Regions from separate parts of the Homo sapiens genome. Here all the other regions are linked to region 3. Evidence: fine-mapped expression QTL. A gene starts in region 3. Each other region holds a variant in brackets. All regions are shown on one strand. Distances are between the middles of the regions. Region 1 has its middle 5.3 kb from the start of LGALS2. Region 2 overlaps TRIOBP (TRIO and F-actin binding protein). Region 3 holds the start of GGA1 (golgi associated, gamma adaptin ear containing, ARF binding protein 1).

What was found. PIP is the estimated chance that this variant, and not a neighbour inherited with it, causes the effect.
Region 1: its variant is the best candidate, but not a certain one, in a credible set for the expression of GGA1 in whole blood (INTERVAL, PIP 0.57).
Region 2: its variant is the best candidate, but not a certain one, in a credible set for the expression of GGA1 in whole blood (TOPMed, PIP 0.77).

Annotation. Positions count from the first base shown.
Region 1 is chr22:37,581,335-37,589,510 of GRCh38, forward strand. No RefSeq gene overlaps it. Among named protein-coding and RNA genes, the nearest start is that of LGALS2, 5.3 kb to the left of the region's middle. The variant C/T (reference allele first, on the strand shown) is at 4,522.
Region 2 is chr22:37,763,283-37,771,458 of GRCh38, forward strand. It overlaps TRIOBP (TRIO and F-actin binding protein), which reads left to right. Exons shown (of 24, transcript NM_001039141.3): 18 at 2,388-2,535; 19 at 4,792-4,894; 20 at 5,746-5,905; 21 at 5,980-6,093. Among named protein-coding and RNA genes, the nearest start is that of H1-0, 38 kb to the right of the region's middle. The variant C/T (reference allele first, on the strand shown) is at 3,203.
Region 3 is chr22:37,605,379-37,613,553 of GRCh38, forward strand. GGA1 (golgi associated, gamma adaptin ear containing, ARF binding protein 1) reads left to right here and starts at 3,456. Exons shown (of 17, transcript NM_013365.5): 1 at 3,456-3,525. The coding sequence starts at 3,483. RefSeq lists a cis regulatory region at 1,632-2,091, enhancers at 2,836-2,915, 3,066-3,235, 3,840-4,461, 4,176-4,285 and a silencer at 3,396-3,845.

The sequences.
Region 1 (8,176 bases), 24 kb before region 3:
GTCTGTGCAATTGTTTATCTCTCTTCATTTGGGAAACATTAAAGACCACAAATCTATATTTCAGAACCATACTTTAATGCCTGCGAAATAGTCTACCTTTCAACGACTGAATTTATTTAACCAATTTCCTTCTGCTGAACACTCACATTAATTCTACATTTTTGCTATTAAAAATACTGCTGCATTAAATCTATTTGGACATAAACTTTGGCTGCATCGTGACAACTTATGTAGGGCAGATTCCCAGAAGGAGAACTTTTCTAGAGCTCAGGATTTGGCGAGCCAGAGCGTTTTCCATCAGAGTTGGCGGTGGCCACTCCGGGCAGGATGTGGGGAACTGGCCTTGCCGAGGGCCCTCGGTGCCAGGAGTCTGCAGGTGGCTCACTGCCCAGTGCCCACATAGGACACCACCTTCAGTCCCCTGCCAGCCCGGAGTGAGGAGTGACTTCCTCCTTTCACCCACAAGGAAATTAATCCTCTCTCGGCCTTTCTCCCAAAGGCATGGTAAAACCCCAGTGAGATAAGGAATTTTAAAAGGCTTTCTCCCTGGAAACTAATCAACAGAAACTATACCTTTTAAAGGTGGCATTTTTCTGATTATAATAATAATATTATCTCACTATAGGAGGTTCCAGAAAGTACACACAGTAAAAGGAACTTAAAGTTCACTTGTTTTAAAATAATGTTCAAAAGCAGGGGAAAATGACCATGCATATCATTTACGTACTTTGCTGCGTATATATTTTATACCAATGAAAGATTTAAAAAAAGAAAAAAGAATGGCTGGGCATGGTGGCTCACCCCTGTAATCCCAGCACTTTGGGAAGCTGAGGTGGGTGGATCGCTTGAGTCCAGGAGTTCGAGACCAGCCTGGGCCACATAGTGAGACCCTATCTCTACTAAAAATTTTTTTTAATTAGCCAGGCATGGTGGCACATGCCAGTAGTCCCAGCTACTCAGGAGTCTGAGGTAAGAGAATCACTTGAGCCCTGGAGATCCAGGCTGCAGTGAGCCATGATTGTGCCACTGCACTCCAGCCTGGGTGACAGTGACGGACCCTGTCTCAAAGGAAAAAGAAAAAGAACAGAAATTCCAATACTCACATCTGTAACCTTGTCCTCTTAACAATGGCTACCTTCTGAAGGGCATTCTGCACTTTGCAAACCACTTTCTTCAGCCCTCATCGTTATAAGCTCATAGTACATTCTCAAGGGAACCTCTGTTCTCACCCCATTTTTCAGGTGGGGAATTAGGGATCCCAGGACTCACGCAACTAGAAAGTAGCAGAGCTTGCTGTCTAGCAACCAATCCCTTGCTCAGGCGCCTGCCAAAGTGTGTGGCACTGCCCTCACTTAGCAAAAAGAGCATTTGACCTCCAGTGTGACCTTGAGCCCTCTGTGCGGTGGCCGCCTCTGAGATGGCCCCAATGATCCCCAGCTCCTGGTAATCACACACTTGCCCAATCAGCTCCCTTGAGCATGACTGGACACAGGACTTGCTTCTAACTAAAAGAATACTAGAATATGGCAAAAGTCATGGGATGTCACTTCCAAGGTTAGGTTACAAAAAAACTGTTGTCCTGCTGTCTCTCTCGCCCTCTGCTCTGCTCTTGCCCTGGGGAAGAAGCAATGAAACCACCTTGCGAGTAGCTCTATGGAGAGGCCCATGTGCCAAGGAACTGACGTCTCCAGCCAACCACCAATGAAGACCAGGACCTGCCAACAGCTACATGAGTGAACTTGACATTGGAGCTTACCCCACGCCAGCCTGGAGACAACTTGTGCAGCCGACACCCTGACTGCAGCCTTGTGAGACCCGGAGCCAGAGGCTCTCAGCTAAACCCCACCTGGATTCCTGCCCCAAAGAAACCATGAGAAACGTGTTTCTTATTTTAAGTCCCTACATTTTGGGTTAATTTATTACGCAGTGATAGATAACTAATATACCTTGCCAAGCAATTGTTATTGGAAGGCTGGTAGACGGAATAATATTCCTGAAGGCCTCCCTCCTGGCTAAAGAATCTTTGGTCCATAGATGTCCACAGACATTCTATAATACTATACTGAATTTTTTTTTTTCTTGAGATGGAGTCTTGCTCTTGTCGCCCAGGCTGGAGTGTAATGGCACAATCTCTGTTCACTGCAATCTCCACCTCCTAGGTTCAAGTGATTCTCCTGCCTCAGCCTCCCAAGTACCTGGGATTACAGGCGCCCACGACCATGCCCAGCTAATTTTTGTATTTTTAGTAGAGGCGGCATTTCACCATGTTGGCCAGGCTGGTCTCAAACTCCTGACCTCAGGTGATCCGCCTGCCTCAGCCTCCCAAAGTGCTGGGATTACGGGTGTGAGACACCACGCCTGGCTACAAAAGATATTTTTAAATTAGCTTGGCACGGTGGAGCACAAATGTAGTCCCAGCTACGGGAGAGGCTGAGGTGGGAGGTTCGCTTGAACCCAGGAGGTCAAGGCTGCAGTCGGCCATGGTCACACCACTGCACTACAGTCTGGGTGACAGAGTAAGACCTTGGTCTCAAAAAATATGTATATATTTTCTCTTCAACCTAAAAGTTTATTTTTTTCTGATTGTATAAGAAATTAAAACATTTTAGGCTGGGCGCAGTGGCTCACGCCTGTAATCCTAGCACTTTGGGAGGCCGAGGCAGGTGGATCACCTGAGGTCAGGAGTTCAAGACCAGCCCAACCAATATGGTGAAACCCCATCTCTACTAAAAATACAAAAATTAGCCTGGTGTGGTGGCGTGCGCCTGGAGTCCAAGGTACACGGGAGGCTAAGACAGAAGAATCGCTTGAACCCAGGAGACGGAGGTTGCAGTGAGCTGAGATAGTGCCACTGCACTCCAGCCTGTGCAACAGAGCAAGAGTCCATCTCAAAAAAAAAAGAAAGAAAGAAAAGAAATTAAAACATTTTGGTGTCATGGGCCTGAGGCATCATGCCTGCTGAGCCTGGTGGTGCACACAGCTTCCCACGGGGCTCCTGCTATTGGGAGACTTTGGTCCTGACATCCCTGAGACCCCTACTGTGTCCTCTGCTGTCCTCCTCCCAAAGAACAAACAGATCAACACCCCGGCAATATCCATTTTAACTCTTGCTTCCCTCTCTGCCGAGCCCTCCCCAGCAGCACACAGAGGGACTGGGAAGACCCTCAGTTACTGGTGGGGTGTGGGAAACACAGAGGTTTCAGCAACAGATAGATAATGTCCAGTCCCGGCTCTGTCACCTACAAGCTAAGTGGCCATGACAGGTTGCTTCAAGCCTCGTTTCTGCATCTGTGAAAGGGAGCTAACAGCACCTTCGTCCCAGGGTGGTTGTGAGAATTTTTTTAAATTTTATTTTATTTTATTTTATTTTATTTTATTTTATTTTATTTTTGAGACAGAGTCTTGCTCTGTCACCCAGGCTGGAGTGCAGTGGCGCGATCTTGGCTCACTGCAAGCTCCTCCTCCCGGGTTCACGCCATTCTCCTGCCTCAGCCTCCCAAGTGGCTGGGACTACAGGTGCCCGCCACCATGCCCGACTAATTTTTTTGTATTTTTAGTAGAGACGGGGTTTCACCGTGTTAGCCAGGATGGTCTCGATCTCCTGACCTCGTGATCTACCCGCCTCGGCCTCCCACAGGGCTGGGATTACAGGTGTGAGCCACTGTGCCCAGCCTTAATTTTAATTTAAAAAGTTAACCTATGGGCTGGGTGCGATGGCTGACACCTGTAATCCCAGCTACTCAGGAGGCTGAGGCAGGAGAATTGCTTGAAACTGGGAGGCGGAGGTTGCAGTGAGCCGAGATGATGCCATTGCATTCCAGCCTGGGCGACAGAGCAAGACTCCGACCCAAAATAAATAAATAAATTATATATATGACCATCAGGTCTCCAGGATGTTTAGGCTGCCTGAGGGGGGGTCCCCTGCTCCTGCAGCTCTGATGAGCTGACCGTCCCTCCTTCAGGGGACTTCCACAGAGCTCTCGCCTCATCCAGCCCAGGGATCTTCCTGTTTAACTTGATGGCCGGGTCCGGGGCCCCTCTCTACACAGCAGCCACTGGCCATGCCTGGCCACCCATCCCCAGCTAGTGTCCCTCCAGGACCACCCAGGTCCCCTGGAGCTCTGGGGTCATCCCATCTCACCTGAAATCAGGGTGGGGCCTTGAAGGAGGAAGGAATTTGGAGACTTAGCAGGGAGTGGGCCAAAGCCACCGAGCTTTCTCCCTTTCTCCACTCCTGCCCCCACAGTCTTTCCACCAACCACTGGTTCTTTGTAAGATGTAAATGACAACATTCCACTCTCCTGCTTTAAACCCTCCAGGTTTCTCCTTGCACTTACAGCGAAATCCAAACTCCCCTCTCAGCTAACCAGCCCCACACGATCGGGTCTGGTCCACCTCTTAGCCCCGTCTCACGCCACCTGCCCCCTGGCCACACTGACATCTCTATCCCTTGAATTCACCAGGCTCATTCTAGTCTCATGCCTTATGTCCTTGCTGTTCCTTCCACCTGGAATTCTTCCT[C/T]AGCTCTTGGCTGGATTGAGCTCCTTATCATGTCAGTTTTAACTCAAAAGAGGGATGGATGGACAATCGGATGGATGGATGGGTGCTGTGATACTATTATTACATAAAATAGGTTTTGCCCATGGTTTCTAACTCATAACTCTCACAGCATTTGTTAGTCTTTTGTTATAATGTTGGGGTGCTTTAGGCCTCAGGAACAGGCCTCAGAAAACAGAATCAATCTCTGACCTTTGGCTGTCCTTCCTTCACCTGCTCCTTTCTCTCCTCAAGGTAGGAATCTCCCCCTGCCTTTCTTTCTTAGAACAGAAATTCTGGCCAGGCACAGTGGCTCACACCTGTAGTCCCAGCACTTTGGGAGGTTGAGGCGGGCGAATCACTTGAGGTCAGGAGTTCGAGACCAGCCTGGCCAACATGGCGAAACCCTGTCTTTACTAAAAATACAAAATAATTAGCAGGGCGCGGTGATGCGCACCTGTAATCCCAGCTACTCAGGAGGCTGAGGCAGGAGAATCGCTTGAACCTGGGAGGCTGCAGCGAGCCAAGATCACGCCATTGCACTCCAGCCTGGGTGACAAGAATGAGACTCCATCTCAAAAAAAAAAAAAAAACACAGAAATTCTTCCGTAAAGAAATTCCCTGGCAGGGCGCGTTGGCTCACGCCTGTAATCCCAGCACTTTGGGAGGCCGAGGCAGGCGGATCACCTGAGGTTGGGAGTTCGAAACCAGCCTGACCAACAAGGAGAAACCCCATCTCTACTAAAAATATAAAATTAGCCAGGCGTAGTGGTGCATGCTTGTAATCCCAGCTGCTCGGGAAGCTGAGGCAGGAGAATTTCTGGAACCCAGGAGGCAGAGATTGCAGTGAGCCGAGATCGCACCATTGCACTCCAGCCTGGGCAACAAGAGCAAAACTCCATCTCAAAAAAAAAAAAAAAAAAAAAAAAGAAATTCCCTGACCTACCTTGTCATAAGACCCTCATTTCAGAAGGGGTCCTGCTCCATCCCTTGGAGTAAGAAATGCTGCACAGAGAGGCCAAGAAGAATCTGAACAGACGGGCCTTGCGGGGGTTCCACACTTCGTCTAGTAATATTAGATCAGATCCTTTTTGCCCATTCACAGTTCTACACAGAGGTCAATCATGCCGGCATAATAAAGTCCCCATAAAAGGCCCCAGGGGATTGGGTTTGGGCAGCTTCTGAGATAGCTGAACACATGGCTGTCCTGAAGGATGGTGCTCCCAGGTGGGAGGGGAAGCTCTGCATCTCTTCCCCATAACCCGCCCTAAACATCTCTTCATCTGTATGTTTTATAACATCCTTTATAATAGACCAGTACACACAAATGTTTCCCTGACTTCTGTGAGCCACTCTAACAAATTAACTGAACCCAAAGAGGGGTCGTGGGATCCCCAACTTGAAGTCCAGAGGCTCAGACTTGCAACTGGTGTGGAGGGAGAGGGGAGTCAGGGAGAGGGAGCTCAGGAGTTCGAGACCAGCCTGGCCAACATGGTGAAATCCTGTCTCTACTAAAAATACAAAAATTAGCCAAGCGTGGTGGCACACACCTGTAAGCCCAGCTACTCTGGAAGCTGAGAAAGGAGAATTGCTTGAATCCAGGAGGTTGCAGTGAGCCGAGATTGTGCCACTGTACTCCAGCCTGGGTGACAGAGTGAAACTCTGCCTCAAAAAAGGAGAAAAAAGAGGCCTGGCGTGGTGGCCCACACCTGTAATCCCAGCACTTTGGGAGGTTGAGGTGGGTGGCTTACCTGAGGTCAGGAGCTCGAGACCAGCCTGGCCAACACAGAGAAACCCCGTCTCTACTAAAAATACAAAAATTAGCTGGGCGTGGTGGTGCGCACCTGTAATCCCAGCTACTCGGGAGGCTGAGGCAGGAGAATCACTTGAACCTGGGAGGCAGAGGCTGCAGTGAGCCGAGATCGGGCCATTGCACTCCAGCCTGGGCAATAGAGTGAGACTGCATCTCAAAAAAAAGAAAAGAAAAAGAAAAAAGAAAAAAGATGCATGGTTAAGTGGGTGGATGGGTGAGGAGGTGGAGGGAGGGGTGGGTGCATGGATGGTGGATCAGCAGGAGGAATTGCTCATCATAGAGCCCCAAAGGGTGGGTATCTTCAGGGCCCCAATCTGGTGCAGCACGGCCCCTCCCTCCATCCCTCCTGCCCCCTCCCTGGCTTATCATCCCAGCCTTTTGAACCAGGAAGCCTCCGTCTCAGGGCCACGCCAACTTATGCACGTGTGGTGCTGGGTGGATTTACAGAAAAGATCATCAGGTTCTGTGTCCACCTTCTTATAAGTGGCAAGAAGATTTTCCATCTCTGTGTCTTTAGAAATTGAAGATATAAACCAAGCTGCTTCTGTGACTTGGGTGGTCCTTGAGTGCTCTTCCTCAGAGACAGGTGACCTGAGTCCTGAGTGCAGTTCCTTCTCCCTGGCCCAGGCCACACAGTCTTTCCATGGATAGTGGAGCCTTTTTTTTTTTTTGAGACAGAGTCTCGCTCTGTTGCCCAGGCTGGACTGCAGTGGTGCAATCTCGGCTCACTGTGACCTCCACCTTCCAGGTTCAAGTGATTCTCCTGCTTCAGCCTCCCAAGTAGCTGGGATTATAGGCACCCGCCATCACGCCCGACTAATTTTTGTATTTGTAGTAGAGACGAGGTTTCACCATGTTGGCCAGGCTTTTCCTGAACTCCTGACCGCAGGTGATCTGCCTGCCTTGGCTTCCCAAGGTGCTGGGATTACAGGCGTGAGCCACAGCGCCTGACCTGAGCCTTCTGCATCTTAATCACCCAGTCACAGCTGTCCATGCGGGCGGGTACCTGGGGATGGTGAGGAGAGGCTAAAACAACAGAAGCAATGAAGCAACGCTGCTCACCCCAGCATTCCCACCCCACCCCCAGCTTCTGGCAGGATTATATCTGCCAAGGACAGGACTATATCCGCCTCAATCTTTGTGTTTGCCAAGCAGGGAGAGGAGCATTTATCCATCTCTAATGTGGTAAACAACCAAAGGAGGTCCCCCGCCAAGTGCAGCCCTAGTCGCAGGAGCACACCCACTCCCAAGGCTTCTGATCCACCCTGAGCACCTATGGCCACTGGAAACCCCCACTCTTACTGAAGTCTGTCCCTGGGGGCAATCCCCTTCCTCTCACAGTTGGCCCCAGCTCTGCCCTGGGCCACACAGATTCTGCTGCCATCACTGCTTTTCTGATGATTGCAGTCTCAGGACCATCTGGGCTGCCTCCCCGCAGCACCCCGTACATATACAAGCCTCCTTCCTCAAGGGGAAACACCTATGAGCCCCCAGGGCCTCATCTCCCAGAATCAGAATCCAAAGGATTCCAGAAGCAGCTTGGTTTAAATGGACATTTTCCTGAAGGCCAAAATCAACAGGTACAGGCCTTCAGGGAAATGTCCATTTCAGAAGCTGACCCTTTATTTTTAGGATGGGAGCAGGACCTAGGTGCCGTAATACCCTTGCAGGTCAAGTTCACAACCCCCGAGACCCACCAACCAGAGCGGTCATGAATTCTCCCCTAATTCCCAGAGCCCCTGGGGAGACCATGGGCTGCAGGAGAGCAGATGAGACTGTGGCTGGGTGTCCAGAGCTGCTGCCTGCTCCGGCACCTTCATGGAATGG
Region 2 (8,176 bases), 160 kb after region 3:
AGCTCAGAGGGGGCGAGGGGTTTGTTCAGGTTCACTCCAAGGCGCAGCCAGGGTGAAGACCGCCTCTGAGGTCCAAAGTCATGTTCTGTTGTCCTAAGCCAGGAGACACATAGAGGGCAGGAACAGAAGCCAGGGGACAGACACCCCTGTCGCCACATGAAGCTCTTGGCCCTCGCTCCTCCATCAAATCGTCCCCAGGTGTGGCTGCTGGAGAGGCGGGGAGGTGGCCTTTGCGTGGGGGAGACAGTCCCTCATCTGGTCCTCTGTGCCTTAGTTTCTTCCCTGGCTCTTCTTCCCCTTCCCTTTTTAATGACCTTAAACATTTTTTTAATTATATAAAAGAAATGTTTACATTTTCAAAAATAATTTAAACAAATTGAAAGGCTGGAAATCAACACCCTCACACTCCTTCTGCTGCCAGCTGCCACCCCAGGGTCCTGTCGGTGGCTGCTGCCGCCTGCCTATCAGTTTCTGGTGGCAGCTGTAACCTGTAACCACAGCTACCTAAATAATGCACATGTATTACCTCACGCTTCTGTAGGCGAGAAGTCTAACGCGAGTCTTGCCGCGCTGCAGCCAAGGCGTGGGCAGGACTGTGTTCCTCTGCAGGCACCCGTTGTATCCCTTGCCTGCTCCAGCTTCTGGTGGCCGTCCGCGTCCCTTGGCTCTCGGCCCCTTCCTTCATCTTCAAAGCCTGCAGAGGGGAAGTCGAGTCCTTCTCCTGCCACGTCACTCTGACCATCCCTTCCTGGTCACACCTCCCTTGAACTCTTCGCTTCTGCCCCCTTCGTCCACTTTTAAGGACCCTTGTGATTACACTGGGCTTGAGGGATAATCTGGGATAATCTCCCGATTTTAAGGTCAGCTGATTAGCAACCTTGATTCCCTCTGCAGCCTGAATTCCTCTTTGCCATGTAACATGATGTAGTCACAGATCCTGGGAGTAAGATGTGGACAACTTTGAGGGGCTATCATTCTGCCCCCTACAATATCCTCCCTACCTTTTCTGTGTTTTCTGTGTTTTCCATTCACTGGGACGGACAGGTCTGCACGTTTGTTCCCGTGAGTGAGATCATACCACGTGTATGTCAGAAGCCAACTTTCACCACCTCATTTTGGGATCTTTTTCCACAGCATCCACACAAAAACTCTGTCTAGCAGCTGCCTGTGTCCCATTGTCAAGCTCGATCCCATCATTTATTCAAGAGTTCCCCTGATAGGGATTTAGATTGTTTCCAGTTTTCATCTGTTACCAACCTGGCTGTAGGGAATACCCTTGTTCCAAAAGTCTCTGTACACATACGACTTTCTGTGGGATCATTTCTGGGAGTGAACCTACTAGGTCAACCAGTGGGGTCGCAAAATGTGATGATGCCACCGGACCACCCCCAACACACACCGTTGTGGCGGACACTCCCAGCAGTGGGTATTATTAGTCTGAGATACTTGCCCATCTTGTCTACTAAGCATTATTTTGTATTACATCATCAGTTTCAGCTCATTTACTGAGCACCTGCCACATGTCAGGCCCTGGCCTAGACCCTGGGGACTGCGCCAGTCAGATGTTCTCAGTCTTCAGGGAATTTATGGTTTGGCAGAGGTAGAACCTTTTGAGGCAGGGGAGAGGCTGCCCAGAGACAGAGCTAGGAGAGACATTTAAACTGGGCTGCAGGTCAGTAAATTACCCAGGGAGGTAAAGTTGCCAAAAAAACATTCCAGGCCGGGCACAGTGGCTCATGCCTGTAATCCCAGCATTTTGGGAGGCCAAGGCCGGCAGATCACAAGGTCAGAAGTTCAAGACCATCCTGGCTAACACAGTGAAACCCCATCTCTACTAAAAATACAAAAATTAGCTGGGCGTGGTGGTGGGCACCTGTAGTCCCAGCTACTCACGAGGCTGAGGCAGAAGAATCACTTGAACCCAGAGGTGGAGGTTGCAGTGAGCTGAGATTGCTCCACTGCACTCCAGCCTGGGTGACAGAACAAAACTCTGTCTCAAAAACAAAAACAAAAACAAAAAAACCACAAAATTCCAGGCAGTGGGAATAGCTAAAGCTCAGAGGTGTGAACGTGCTGCAACCGTAACTGTGAGATTGCTTGGCAGAGAAAGGCCAGGGATGAGAACGTAAAGGTCAGCCATGGGAACGGGGACTTGACTCTGTAGGACGAGGAATCCCTGGAGGGCTTGAGGCAGGAGCGACAAGGTGAGGTTTGTGAATGAGGAGCCGTGGGGTGGGGGTGGGAGCAGGAGCAGGTGCAGACTGGAGGTGCTGGGACCCAGGAGGAGGTGGTGTACCTGCCCCTGAGCCTTCTCCTCTGGAGGCTGGGGAAGGGCCGCTGTCCAGAGGAACGGGGCAGCCTGTGACACCCTGGCGTCCGGCCCACAGGAGGCATGTGAGCGCAGCCTGGCAGAGATGGAGTCCTCGCACCAGCAGGTGATGGAGGAGCTGCAGCGGCACCACGAGCGGGAGCTGCAGCGCCTGCAGCAGGAGAAGGAGTGGCTCCTGGCTGAGGAGACGGCAGCCACGGCCTCAGGTATGGACCCTGGGGGGGGCACAGTGGGCTGGGCTCTGAGCCTCTGTGCTGAGGTTCCTCCTAGCCAAACTGGGGAGGATTTTATCAAATAAGATGTAGGGGTCTCAGTGCCACATTTGGGGTAAAGGGTCAGCAGGTGTTAGAAGCTCCAAGAACTGGCCTGTAGCCCTACTTAAAAAGGGAAACTGAGGCAGTAAAAGATACCCTCCCCACCCCCAACACCACCACTACCATAGGTGGTGACTCTTCCTGCTCAGGGGCCTGCAGCCACCATAGAGTCTGCCTAAAGGCACATGCTACCCACGTGCGTGGGGGAGAGGCTGATCAGCTGCATCCCCTGTCCTCATAGGAGTGCCTCCTCCCTGGGCACATGGGCCAGACCCTGGGGAGAGCAGGGGAAGGTGTGAGCATTGTCCATGCCAGCTGTGTGCCAGGCACTGGGCCCCACATGTTTCCCACAGGAGCACCCTTCATCCTGGACAATTCCCTCCCCTCCTGCCACCGCACACCTGCTGTGTGCCTGGCACATTCCTAGGCATCACTAGGGGTTTGCAGAACAATAGAAATGCTGGCCAATGTCACATGATCTGAAGCTCACAACCTGCCAGTGCTGTGCCAAGTGCTCATGCACTCGAACCCAGCCTTGGGGCCAGTGTGCTCTGCATTT[C/T]AGGAAGATCGCCTTTGCAGCCGCGTGTGTTAGAGACCCCTTCCCCCTCAGCAGAGTCTGGACTTCGCCCTGTAATCTGGCACTAAGGTTTCTGCTGTGAAATGGATAAAAATCACACTTAAGTGGAATAATAAAGACCATAAATAGCCTCATGTCCGTTCAGGGTGGGGATTGCCACCAAAAGATTTACCAGAGGCCCGGTGCAGTGGCTCATGCCTGTAATCCCAGCACTTTGGGAGGCTGAGGCGGGCAGATCACCTGAGGTCAGGAGTTCGAGACTAGCCTGGCCAACATGGTGAAACCCCATCTCTACTAAAAATACAAAAATTAGCTGGGCGTGATGGTGGGCAGCTGCAATCCCAGCTACTCAGGAGGCTAAGGCAGGAGAATCTCTTGAACCCAGGAGACAGAGGCTGCAGTGAGCTGAGATTGCACCACTGCACTCCAGCCTGGATGACAGAGTAAGACTCCATCAAAAAAAAAAAAGGCCAGGCACTGTGGCTCATGCCTGTAATCCCAGCACTTTGGGAGGCCGAGGCAGGTGCATCACGAGGTCAGGAGTTCAAGACCAGCCTGGCCAAGATGGTGAAACCCTGTCTCTACTATGAATACAAAAATTAGCCATGCGCGGTGGCAGGCGCGTGTAATCCCAGCTACTCAGGAGGCTGAGGCAGGAGAATCGCTTGAAAGTGGGCGGCAAAGGTTGTAGTGAACCAAGATTGTGCCACTGCACTCCAGCCTGGGTGACAGAGTGAGACTCCGTCTCCTGGGTGACAGAGTGAGACTCCGTCTCCTGGGTGACAGAGTGAGACTCTGTCTCAAAAAAAAAAAGAAAGAAAAAAAGGAGAGAAACTTTCAATGTTCAGAAGTTTCGGATTTTAGAATTGTGGGTAAAACCATGGGTGGCCCTGAGTGGGAAAAAAAAAGCCTCGGTCTCAGTCCTTAGGAGCTCACAATCTGAGAATAAAGCCAGCAGGAGCTAATGTTGGGGCATTTACTCTGAGCCATGCTTTGTTCTAAATTCTTCACACACCTTCCAATAACCCCATGGAGGAAAGGTACTGTTGTTATCGATCCCTGTTTTCCAGATAAGGGATCTGAGGCACAAGGGGTTAAGTCACCTGTGCAAAGTCACATCGGTTTATGCTGACTGTGGAGCCTGAGCTCTTGACCACGAGGCTGGTCAAAGCAGATAGGCCTTGTTTGAGAGCCCTCAGAGTCTGCAGGGGGGGTGTACTAGGTGGGGTCCTACCTGGAAATCACTAGAACAGGAGGTACCAATGGTCAGACCCTGAGCTGTCTCCCCAGTAGGGTCCATCCAACAGGATTATCTTCCCTTAATAGATGGGCTGAGAGAGGTTGAGAGCTTACCCCAAGCCACTCAGTTTATGACACAACCTGGGCTACTCTAGACTCCTGGTTCGGTGCTCTTTGCATAGCACTCCTTGGTCCAAGTCCATAGTACTTGCATAGTACTATGTGGAGTCCACATAGTACTCCACCAGTACATGTGGCGTCTCAGAGCTGGTGGCACTTGGTGCTGCTGACCCCCCTCCAGTCTCTCTTGTGCCTCTCTGCCCTGCTTCCAGCCATTGAAGCCATGAAGAAGGCCTACCAGGAAGAGCTGAGCCGAGAGCTGAGCAAAACACGGAGTCTCCAGCAGGGCCCGGATGGCCTCCGGAAGCAGCACCAGTAAGATGATGCCGGGGCCCAACTGCCCACCCTGATGGTTATGGGTTGAGGAACTTTGCTGAGGCCCCTTGGCAGCGGACACATCAGTTTGCCCCTAGCTGAGATTCCTGCTCCAGTCTCATGGATGCAAGAAACAGAAGCAGAAGGTCCTCAGGCAGACCCCATGCCAGTCCTCACAGACAGTCCTTCAGGCAGCTTCTTGTCTTGGCTGGTCCCAGCCTCCACCCACCTCTTCACCCCTTTAGTCTCCCCTGGAGCTGGGCTGCAGTGTCACTGTTGACCACTAGGCCTCTCCCTGCCCCAGAGCACAGTTTTGGAATGTTGAGGTTTCAGGGGCTTTAACTTTAAAGATGGGCCCCTCCAGCCGGGCACATTGGCTCATGCCTGTAATCCCAGCACTTTGGGAGGCTGGGATCAGGAGTTCGAGACTAGCCTGGCCAACATGGTGAAACCCCATCTCTACTAAAAATACAAGCTAGCTGAATGTGGTGGCGGGAGCCTGCAATTCTAGCTACTTGGGAGGCTGAGGCAGGAGAATCGCTTGAACCCAGGAGGCAGAGGTTGCAGTGAGCCAAGATTGTGCCATTGTATTCCAGCCTGGGCAACAAGAGTGAGAGCAAGACTCCATCTAAAAAAAAAAAAAAAGATGGGCTCCTCCAAGCCACCCTCACTTAGGGTAAACACCTGTAGCCCAGAGAAGCTGTCACTGGTTCACAGCCCCACAGCAGGCTAAAGGCAAACCTAGAGAGGGAACCCCAGAGTCCTGGGATGCTTTAAGTCTACCTGACTGGACTCCAGGCTTGGCAGGAGCAAGACAACCTATGCTCTCCTCTGCTCCTCCTCTGGGGCAGGTCAGATGTGGAGGCACTGAAGCGAGAGCTGCAGGTGCTATCGGAGCAGTACTCGCAGAAGTGCCTGGAGATTGGGGCACTCATGCGGCAGGCTGAGGAGCGCGAGCACACGCTGCGCCGCTGCCAGCAGGAGGGCCAGGAGCTGCTGCGCCACAACCAGGTGGGCCTGGCCCCAGGTTGGGGGGACACGGGTGGGTCCCGGCACCCCTCCCCTGACCACCGTGCCTCTCCCAGGAGCTGCATGGCCGCCTGTCAGAGGAGATAGACCAGCTGCGCGGCTTCATTGCCTCGCAGGGCATGGGCAATGGCTGCGGGCGCAGCAACGAGCGGAGTTCCTGCGAGCTAGAGGTGAGTGTCCTCACTAGCACCAGGCAGCCCAGTGGTTCTCGGGGCCCGGGGCTATGGGGCACCCCCGCCATAGGCTGGGTATCACCTGTGGCAGGAAAGCCAAGTCTCCCAGTGGCTGGGCCAGCCTGACTAGGCTAGAACACCTACTGTGCATCCAGTAGCCAGCATTCTGCCCTCCCACCTGCATTGTGTCACCTACCTGCCGTGTACCATAGCAAATCACTCCACTTTTCTGAGTCCCAGTAGCTCATCTGTAAAATGGCACCAGCACCTTCCTTACTGGGAAATATTGGGGTAAGAAAATATGTGTGTATGTGTGTGATGCCAGTATCACTGTAGTATTTTCTTTCTTTTTCTTTCTTTCTTTTTTTGAGACAGAGTCTCTCTCTGTCACCCAGGCTGGAGTGTAGTGACACGATCTCAGTTCACTGCAACCTCTGCCTCCCTGGTTCAAGCGATTCTCCTGCCTCAGCCTCCCAAGTAGCTAGGATTACAGGCCTGCACCACCACACCCAGCTAATTTTTTATATTTTTGGTAGAGACAAGTTTCACTATGTTGGCCAGGCTGGTCTCGAACTCCGGACCTCAAGTGATCTGCCTACCTTGGCCTCACAAAGTGCTGGGATTACAGCATGAGCCACCACACCCGGCCTTAGTATTTATTTCTTTACTTTTTTTTTTTTTTTGAGACAGAGTTTTGCTGTTGTTGCCCAGGCTACAGTGCAGTGGCGCGATCTCGGCTCACCACAACCTCCGCCTCCCAGGTTAAAACGATTCTCCTGGCCGGGCGCGGTGGCTCACGCCTGTAATCCCAGCACTTTGGGAGGCCGAGGCGGGCAGATCACGAGGTAGGAGATCAAGACCATCCTGGCTAACACAGTGAAACCCCGTCTCTACTAAAAATACAAAAAAATTACCCGGGCGTGGTGGCGGGCGCGGTGGCGGGTGCCTGTAGTCCCAGCCACTCCGGAGGCTGAGGCAGGAGAATGGCATGAACCTGGGAGGCGGAGCGTGCAGTGAGCCGAGATCGTGCCACTGCACTCCAGCCTGGGTGACAGAGCGAGACTCCGTCTCAAAAAAAAAAAAAATATTAAAAAAAAAAAGCGATTATCCTGCCTCAGCCTCCCAAGTAGCTAGGATTACAGGCATGTGCCACCTCGCCTGGATAATTTTGTATTTTTAGTAGAGACAGGGTTTTTCCATGTTGGTCAGGCTCTTCTCGAACTCCCAACCTCAGGTGATCCGCCCACTTCGGCCTCTCAAAGTGTTGGGATTACAGGCGTGAGCCACCGTGCCCAGCCGATATTTTATTTCTCTTTTTTTTTTTGAGACGGAGTCACTCTGTCACCCAGGCTGGAGTGCAGTGGCACCATCTCGGCTCACTGCAAGCTCCGCCTCTCGGGTTCATGCCATTCTCCTGCCTCAGCCTCCCGAGTAGCTGGGACTACAGGCACCCGCCACCACACCTGGCTAATTTTTTGTATTTTTAGTAGAGACGGGGTTTCACCATGTTAGCCGGGATGGTCCCAATCTCCTGACCTCGTGATCCGCCCGCCTCTGCCTCCCAAAGTGCTGGGATTACAGGCGTGAGCCACCGCTCCTGGCCCCAATATTTTATTTCTTCAACAAACACTTAGGTGAGGCTCACTCTGTACCTAGAAATTCTGGAAGCCCTTTTTGTCTGTTAACTCATCTAATCTTCCTGACAGCTCCATACATTAGCTACTATGACTGTCCCCATTTACAGATGAGGAAACTGAGGCACAGGAAGGTCAAGTACCTTACCAAAGCTTTTATAGCTGGACTGGGATTTGAACCAGGCAGTCTGGCTCCAGTCTGAGCTTTTAAGCCTCCCCAGTCCTGGCTGAACTTGTTTCCTCCTTGGTCAAGTCAGCAGCACCTAGCCCTCGGGGTTGGGGAGGGGTTAATGAGGTGCCTTGTGGAGTGGTTCAGCCTGCTCAGGTTTATGTAGGGCTTCTTTTCATCCATCTCACTCCCGAGGTGAGAGCCTGGTGCTGCATGAGGGCTGCAGCAGACTTGACCGTGAGATATCCACTCACACGGGCTGGACAGGGGTGAGAGT
Region 3 (8,175 bases):
GCCCATCTCCCCAGCTCCTATTCCCTCGCCCCAGCCCTCCCTCACCAACGTTTCCAGTGTTCCAGGGGTTTTCTTAGGAAGGAGCTGAGGTGTTAAATCCTTAGAGGTCGGCATGGCTTAGGTGATTATAGCTGAGCTTTACCTGCCCTTCTCAGGGGTTCCTCAAGTCTCTCAAAGCAACACATTTGCTCATGGTGGGGAATGGGTGGGAACGGCTGCCACAGGCATTTCCTCCAAGTTTCCCGTGTTGGTCCTCCTTCCTTTCACCATCTTTAGGTTCCTCCTACCGTACCTCCTACCCTGATCCCCAGTTTGGGCCAGGCCCTTCACGCATAGACACAGCTCCTGAGTCTACCTTATCACGCCCTGCTCCCCAGAACTCAGAGGGACAGCCTAGAGCCTTTGTTACAAGCACAGCCTGGCTCGCCTCTCCAAACCCCCATACTCACTGTGCAATGTTGGGCATATTCATTCATTTATTTGATGCATATTTATTGAATACTTATTGTGTAACAGTTACTGTTTTAGGGCTTGGGGATATATTATTAGTGAAGTAACTAAATAAAATCCATTGCCGTGGTGGAGCTTACATTCTGGTGGGGGAGAGAGACACAAAACACAACAAAGAAATGAAATATGTAGTGGAGATAAGTGCTAAGGAGAAAAGTTCAGCAGAAAAGGTGGTAGGGAACATGTGGTAGGGGATTAATTTTGCAGACACACTTGTTCAAGATCATCCAGAAAGCAGTGAAGTCAGAATTTGCACCTAAATCAAATCTATTTTGTCTTTAAAAGTGACTCCTGACAGCACAGACATGTCCCTAAATGAATGCAGTAAATGCGATGTGAGTTTTATTTCAGTAATAATTCATCTCAGGCTGGGCGTGGTGGCTCACGCCTGTAATCCAAACACTTTGGGTGGTCAAGGCAGGTGGATCACCTGAGGTCAGGGGTTCGAGACCCGCCTGGCCAACATGGCGAAACCCTGTCTCTACTAAAAATACAAAAATTAGCCAGGCATGATGGCGCATGCCTGTAATCCCAGCAACTCAGGAGGCTGAGGCAGGGGAATCGCTTGAACCCAGGAAGCAGAGGTTGCAGTGAGCTGAGATCGTGCCACTGCACTCTAGCCTGGGCGACAGAGTAAAACTCTGTCTCAAAAATAAATATAATAGGCTGGGCGCAGTGGTTCATACCTGTAATCCCAGCACTTTGGGAGGCTCAGGCGGGTGGATTACTTGAGGTCCAGAGTTCGAGACCAGCCTGGCCAACATGGTGAAACCCCGTCTCTACTAAAAATATGAAAAAATTAGCCGGGCGTGGTGGCAGGCGCCGGTAATCCCAGCTACTCGGGAGGGTGAGGGAGGAAAATCACTTGAACCCGGGAGGCAGAGGTTGTGGTGAGCTGAGATCGCGTCACTGCACTCCGGCCTGGGCGACAGAGAGAGACTCCGTCTCAAAAATAAAATAAAATAAAAAAATATATATAATTCATTTCAGTAGTAAAAGACATAAACAAAAAGCTATAAGTATACACTACGTTACAGCTTTTGTTGAGGAATGCAATAAACATACATATCACTTCCCTGTATAATCTCAATGGCCTTTGGGAGAGAATTTAGAAAAGCATCCCAGTCGCTGAATGGTTGAGTTTAGGGGAAAAACTGACCCAGCACAGCCCCCTCATCTCCTGGATGAGGTTACTGCGGTTCCGCAAGGTGAATCGAGGTCAGTCGCCAAGGCAGAACCGGATTCGCCAGATTCCCTAGTCTCAGTGGAGCTTTAACCCTCCCAGGCACAGGACCGCTGGAGAGGTCGCCACGGGCCGGTTTCCCAGCCGGCCGCGAGGGGGCGACAGAGTGCAATGGACCCAGGTGAGTCGGGGACCAGGCGCCGCCAGGTCGTGACGCCACAAGGTGAGGGAGGTCTTTGATGGAGGGAGATACAGGAGAAAAGGCGCCGAGCTTAGGAAGTCTGTTCGTACTGTCCTCCCCGATTCCAGTCTGGCTCCCACTGCTATCTTCCTCCCACTGCTGGACCCTTCTAAAACAAAAGCCTGACTTTGCTACCATCCGTAAAACTGTAACGACACCTCCAACGTTGCTTACAGGGAAAAAAAAAAAAAAGGGCAGCAAAACATGGGACCTGGGTGATCTTGCCCCAGCCTAATTCCAAGATATCTCCTGCAAATAGATATCTATTTGCAGATATCTGGGAGCCGTATTGAAATACTTCCAACTCCCTGGACTCATCCTACTTTTTTTTTTTTTTTTTTTTTTGAGACTGAGTCTCGCTATGCCGCCCAGGCTGGAGTGCAGTGACGCAATCTCGGCTCACTGCAACCTTCACCTCCCGGGTTCAAGCGATTCTTCTGCCTCAGCCTTCTAAGTAGCTGGCACTAAAGGCGCGCCCAGATAATTTTTTTTTTTTTTTTTTTTTAGTAGAGACGGGGTTTCACCGTGTTAGGATGGTTTCGATCTCCTGACCTCGTGATCCGCCCTCCTCGGCCTTCATCCTACTTTTTCTCCCTGAATATCTTTTCGCACCAGCTCTACGTGGAGAAATCCGACTGTCTTTGAGCGAAGTACAGTATCACTTTCTCTTGAAACCTCCCCTGACACGACCCCTCCCCTGACACGACCCCTCCCCTGACAACACCCCCACCCACCCCACCCCAGTTTGGGGGAGGAGCCCCCTCCTTTGTTCCCACTACCCCGTGGGCTTCCCCTATCACACTGTAATAAATATCTGGCCTTGTCTATCTCCTTCTGTGCCCATCACAGAGCAAAGCAAATACAAAGAGTTCATTAAACGTTGGCTGGATGAATGGAGGAGACGGCACAGGGTTCAAGCTCTGCTACTTGTGCGGCCTCAGGCCGACTAATTATCTGGTGGGTTTGTTGTAAGGAGTCAGAACTAAATGGATTAATTACAAATAGTGCTTAGGACAATGCCCAGAATACTGTAAGCACTCAAGAAACTGATTTATTTTCGTCATTTTCACAGCGGCCAAGGTACATGAGGATGTAGCTTATCGCCCTTTTAAGGGACTCTCCCACGTTCGACTCTAAGCGGAAGTACCCGCTCAGGGCTCCGGAAGTGGCCTCAGAGCCCCTCAGCAACATGCCCGCAGAGAATTCTTCCGGAGGCGGTCACAGACATCTCCGTGACGCAGAACGAGTTAGAGCGTCCCTTGGGGTTTCCATGGTGCTGCCCTTAGCCTGCAGTATCTCCACTTCCTCTCCCGCCTGAGCGCCGGGAACGGAAAAGCAGGCGGCCGGTCCCAGCTGCGACGTAGACGCCGCGTGGGGGTGGGGTTGGGCGAGTAGGTGACGCTCTAGGCGAGCTCGTTGGCCTCTCTATGGTGCCGAGCGCGCCCGTTCGGACGTTGCCCCTTTAATCGGCAGAGGGCGGTGCCCAGGAGGTCCCGCGAGAGCTGCGGGGGGCGGGGGGGCGGTGCCGAGGCTGGGGGCCGGTGGCGGATGGAGCCCGCGATGGAGCCGGAGACTCTGGAGGCGCGAATCAGTGAGTGTCCGGGAGGGGCGCGGGCCGGACCGGAACCGGAACCGGGGGCACGAGGCGGGCCCCTTCCCGGCGGGGGCGGGGTACGGGTCGCCCCCTCCTCACGCCCCGCCCCCGGCCCGGGAGGGGCGGTGTCCTCAGTCGGCCCCTCAGACCCTGGAGCGATGGAGGACCCCGGCCCCGGCGCGGTCCAGCGGTGGGAGCGGGCGCCGCCCACCTGTCGGATCCCTGGGCCATGACCCCTGGGACGGCGAGTGAGCTGCGCCGGGAACCCCCGGGACGGAGAGAGCAGCCTCCAACCCCCAAGGCTCACATTGCTTCACGGAGTAGCGGCCCGGGGAAGGAGCACGCGAGCGGTTCCCCGGGGTTGCATCTCACACCCGGGAGGGAGGGACCCTACTATTTTCAGGCCCCGAATCCTCCACTCTCTGGCCCTGCATGGCGTTCCTGGAGCCCGCAAGTAGTCACATTTGCTCATTACCCCGTCCTGGAAGGGAGGACCCACTGCCCCATTTGATTCCTCCCGCCGCTCCTAGTCTCTAGCCACATAGTGAGAAACCCCCGCACCCTACAGGCTTGGGAGAGTCTTAGACTCCAGAAGTATTAATAATTCCAAGCTCCCTGTCACTCCCTTCAGCCTAACCCCTCAGTCTCCAAGATGCCTTTCCCAGCTCTTGCTGAACTTCCTTCAAAGGCTTCTACACCCCTTTTTTTCTTGTTTCTCCTCAGACGTAGCTTCCTATTGCTTAGGCTTCCTAGCCCGCAAACCCTCCACCTGAGCTCCTTAACCCACAGCCCTGATGATCCCCTGCTCTCACAGCCCCGCTCCTGGACTCTGCCTCTGAAAGCCGTGGCTGGCTTCTCCCTGGTCTAGTGAGGGTTCTCTCCCAAGGCTTTAACTGCTGTTGGGACCCCGTCGTTGCCAGGGCCTCAGGGAACCCTCTTGGACCCGGGCACACCGGCAACTGTCTAGCGTGGTTTGGGGTCATGGCCGGCCCCTTTTAAGCCAGGCTTGAGCAGAGTTGAACCATGAGGTTGGCCCCAGAACCAAACCTCTAGGGATGTTTCAGAGTCATCCTAGCCACCAGAGGGGCAGGGGGTGGAAAAGGGGCACTCAGCAGCCCTTGACCGTTGTGAACGCCGGAAGTGTCCGCCTGGGTCTCAGCAGCAACTGGGCTGGGGGGATGGGTGGGCCCCTGGCTAACTGATCTCAGACACAGGTCTTGAGCTGTGGGTCATACAAAACATTCTCAGGTTTAGAAACAGTGGGGGTTTTCTGAGAGTCCAGAGAGTCTAAAACCAGGCAGAAGTTAGAGATACCTGGGTTTGGCTGGGCCCTGACACACTGGGGCTGGGATTTTCTCCTTTCCTTCCCCCTTTGTGTCCTAGCAGAATTGTAAGATCTTTCCTCTTCCCTTGTGGAGGCTGGAGGTAAAGGATAGCTTCTTCTTTTTTTTTTTGAGACGGGTTTTCACTCTTGTCACCCAGGCTGGAGTGCAGTGGCACAATCTCAGCTCTCTGCAACCTCCACCTCCCGGGTTCAAGTGATTCTCCTGTCTCAGCCTCCCGAGTAGCTGGAATTACAGGTGCGCCACCACGCCCAGCTATTTTTGTATTTTTAGTACAGGTGGGCTTTCACCATGTTGGCCAGGCTGATCTCGAACTCCTGACCTCAGGTGATCCGCCTATATAGGCCTCTCAAAGTGTTGGGATTACAGGCGTTAGCCACTCATCCGCCCACGTCGGCCTCTCAAAGTGTTGGGATTACAGGCGTGAGCCACCGCGCCCGGCCTAGTGAGGTAAATGATGTTATTGTCAGCACTATAGAGTGGCAGGGTGGAGTCTTACCCTGTTGTGAAACACCTCCCTCCCTCTCTAGGTGTTCTCCCCAACTGCCTGCTAGGGAGGGTACTCCCCTCAGGTAGAATTAAGAGGGCTGAGGGTCAGGGGCCATGGGCCAAGGAGGTCAGTCAGATCTCCTTGGATCTGGAGGCCCTGGCTTTCAGCCAGAGGCAGGGGGAGAAAGATGATGTCTCATGATGCCAGCGCTTCCTCTTCACTGGCGTCTGACCCAGGAGCAGTCCAGAATCAGCTTCTCTGACCTCACTCCAACTCACGTGTCTTTGACACTTTAAGGGACTTCCTGTTTTAGGGTCTTCTGGCTGGGTGTCATTGAATGGGCAGTGATTCTCTAACTTTAGACTGATGTTCCCCAGCCTTTGTTTGGGGACTCGGAGGCAGAGTAGACAGTTACCCTTACCCCTGGGTTGGGGAGGGTCATATTCCTGGTATCCCCAGGAGGTCAACAGGGGCTTCATTTTTCTGAGGGACTAGAGGGTCTTGTGGAGCTCCTGGGACAGAGATCTAGATCCAGAGAGAACATTCGTCCTTCCGATCTCAGCTCAGCTCTGAGAGCCCTCCCAGAGAGCAGCTCCCGAGGGCTCCAGAGCCCTCCGAAAGCCCTCCCAGAGAGCAGCCCCCACCTCCCAGGCTGTCTGCACTTCTCCTTGCTATGCTTTGCTCTGTAACATTTTGCAACAGTCTGCAGTACACGGGGTTTGTTAATCTGAGTATTCATTGTTTCTCTTGCTGGGCAGTGAACTTGAGGAGGGCAGGGATTTTGTCTGTTCACTGCTGGAGCCCCAGCACCCAGAATACTTAAATCTGAGTTGGATGAATGGCGGCCAGCCACTGGGATTCCAGGGCTTTGGGCCCCCTGCCATAACATATGGCCCAGGGCAGGCGCCACATGCTGGGTCAGTCCCCAGCCTCCTGTCCACAGATCCTTCTCTGTTCTACCTCCTGGGCTGTGTCCTTCCACACCCTCAGCTCGGTGCTCAGGCGTGGGCAGAACTGGCTGGGAAGGGGTGGTCCTTAGAGGTGGGCTGTGGAGAAATGAAGATCGAGCTCTGGCTGCCGCCATGGCCTTCCCATGCAAAAAGTATTTTGTCATCCAAAATCAATATTTTGGTCAGGCACAGTGGCTCATGCCTGTAATCCCAGCACTTTGGGTGGCCGAGGTGGGTGGATCATTTGAGGTCAGGAGTTTGAGACCAGCCTGACCAACATGGTGAAATTCCATCTCTACCAAAAATACAAAAAAATTAGCTGGGCATGGTGGTGGACGCCTGTGATCCCAGCTACTCTCAGGAGGCTGAAGCAGGAGAATCGTTTGAACCCAGGAAGCTGAGATTGCAGTGAGCCGAGATCTCGCCACTGCACTCCAGCCTGGGCAACAAAGCAAGACTCTTTCTCAAAAAAAAATAAAAATAAAAAAATACAGGCCGGACGCAGTGGCTCACACCTGTAATTCCAGTACTTTGGGAGGCCGAGGCAGGTGGATCACGAGGTTAGGAGATCAAGACCATCCTGGCTAACACAGTGAAACCCCGTCTCTACTAAAAATACAAAAAAAAAAAAAATTAGCCGGGCGTGGTGGCGGGCACCTGTAGTCCCAGCTACTCGGGAGGCTGAGGCAGGAGAATGGCGTGAACCTGGGAGGCAGAGTTTGCAGTCAGCCGAGATCACACCACTGCACTCCAGCCTGGGCGATAGAGCGAGACTCCGTCTCAAAAAAAAAAAAAAATACAGCCGGGCACGGTGGCTCACACCTGTAATCCCAGCACTTTGGGAGGCCAAGGTGGGCGGATCACAAGGTCAGGAGATTGAGACCATCCTGGCTAACATGGTGAAACCCTGTCTCTACTAAAAATACAAAAAAAAATTAGCCGGGCGTGGTGGCGGGTGCCTGTAGTCCCAGCTACTCGGGAGGCTGAGGAAGGAGAATGGCATGAACCTGGGAGGCGGAGCTTGCAGTGAGCCGAGATCGTGCCACTGCACTCCAGCCTGGGCAACAGCGTGAGACTCGTCTCAAAAAAAAAAAAAAATCCATATTTCATTCCAGCTTTACAAGATGGGGAAATGGAGGTTCAGGGAAGCATGTAAGCTAGATTGTTGTTTAACCAGTATTGGGGGTTAAAGGGGTAGCTGTCTGGTCGTGTTTACACCACTTCATGTAGACCTGTTGGCCCTCTTTCCTTGCCACTATCCATTTCTGGATTCAGTCTTCCCCAGAACCTCACCCTTTGCCTGCCCTCAGCTGACTGCTCATTCATTTGCCAAGGGGAGACAGGTGTGGACATGAGTGGCTGGGATGCAGTGCCGTAGCAGGCTGGGGGACACAAAAGAGAACTGACCCAGCACTGCTACCCTGGGCAGGAGTAGAGGATTAGAGAAGGGGACACCGGAGCCACTCCCAAGGGAATGAAGGCTTTCTGAACCTGGTGTGATGGTAAGACTCACACTCCTTACTGAGGCCCCTCATTCTCTGCCTCGTGTGGTTACCCGCATCTTTCCTGCCCATACAGCCATGCGTGGGTCAGAGGTGTACCAGCTCCAGCCTGGGTGACTCCTCCTGGTCCCTGCTTGTGTGTTGCCTCTTCCAGGCAGCCTCCTCAGCCCCAAACTGAACTGAGTCCCCTCCTCTGTGTTTCTTTTTTGTTTGTTTGAGACGGAGTCACCCAGAGTCCCAGCTCTGTCACCCAGGCTGGAGGGCAGTGGCGAGACCTCGGCTCACTCCAAGCTCCGCCTCCCGGGTTCACGCCATTCTCCTGCCTCAGCCTCCCAAGTAGCTGGGACTACAGGCACCCACCA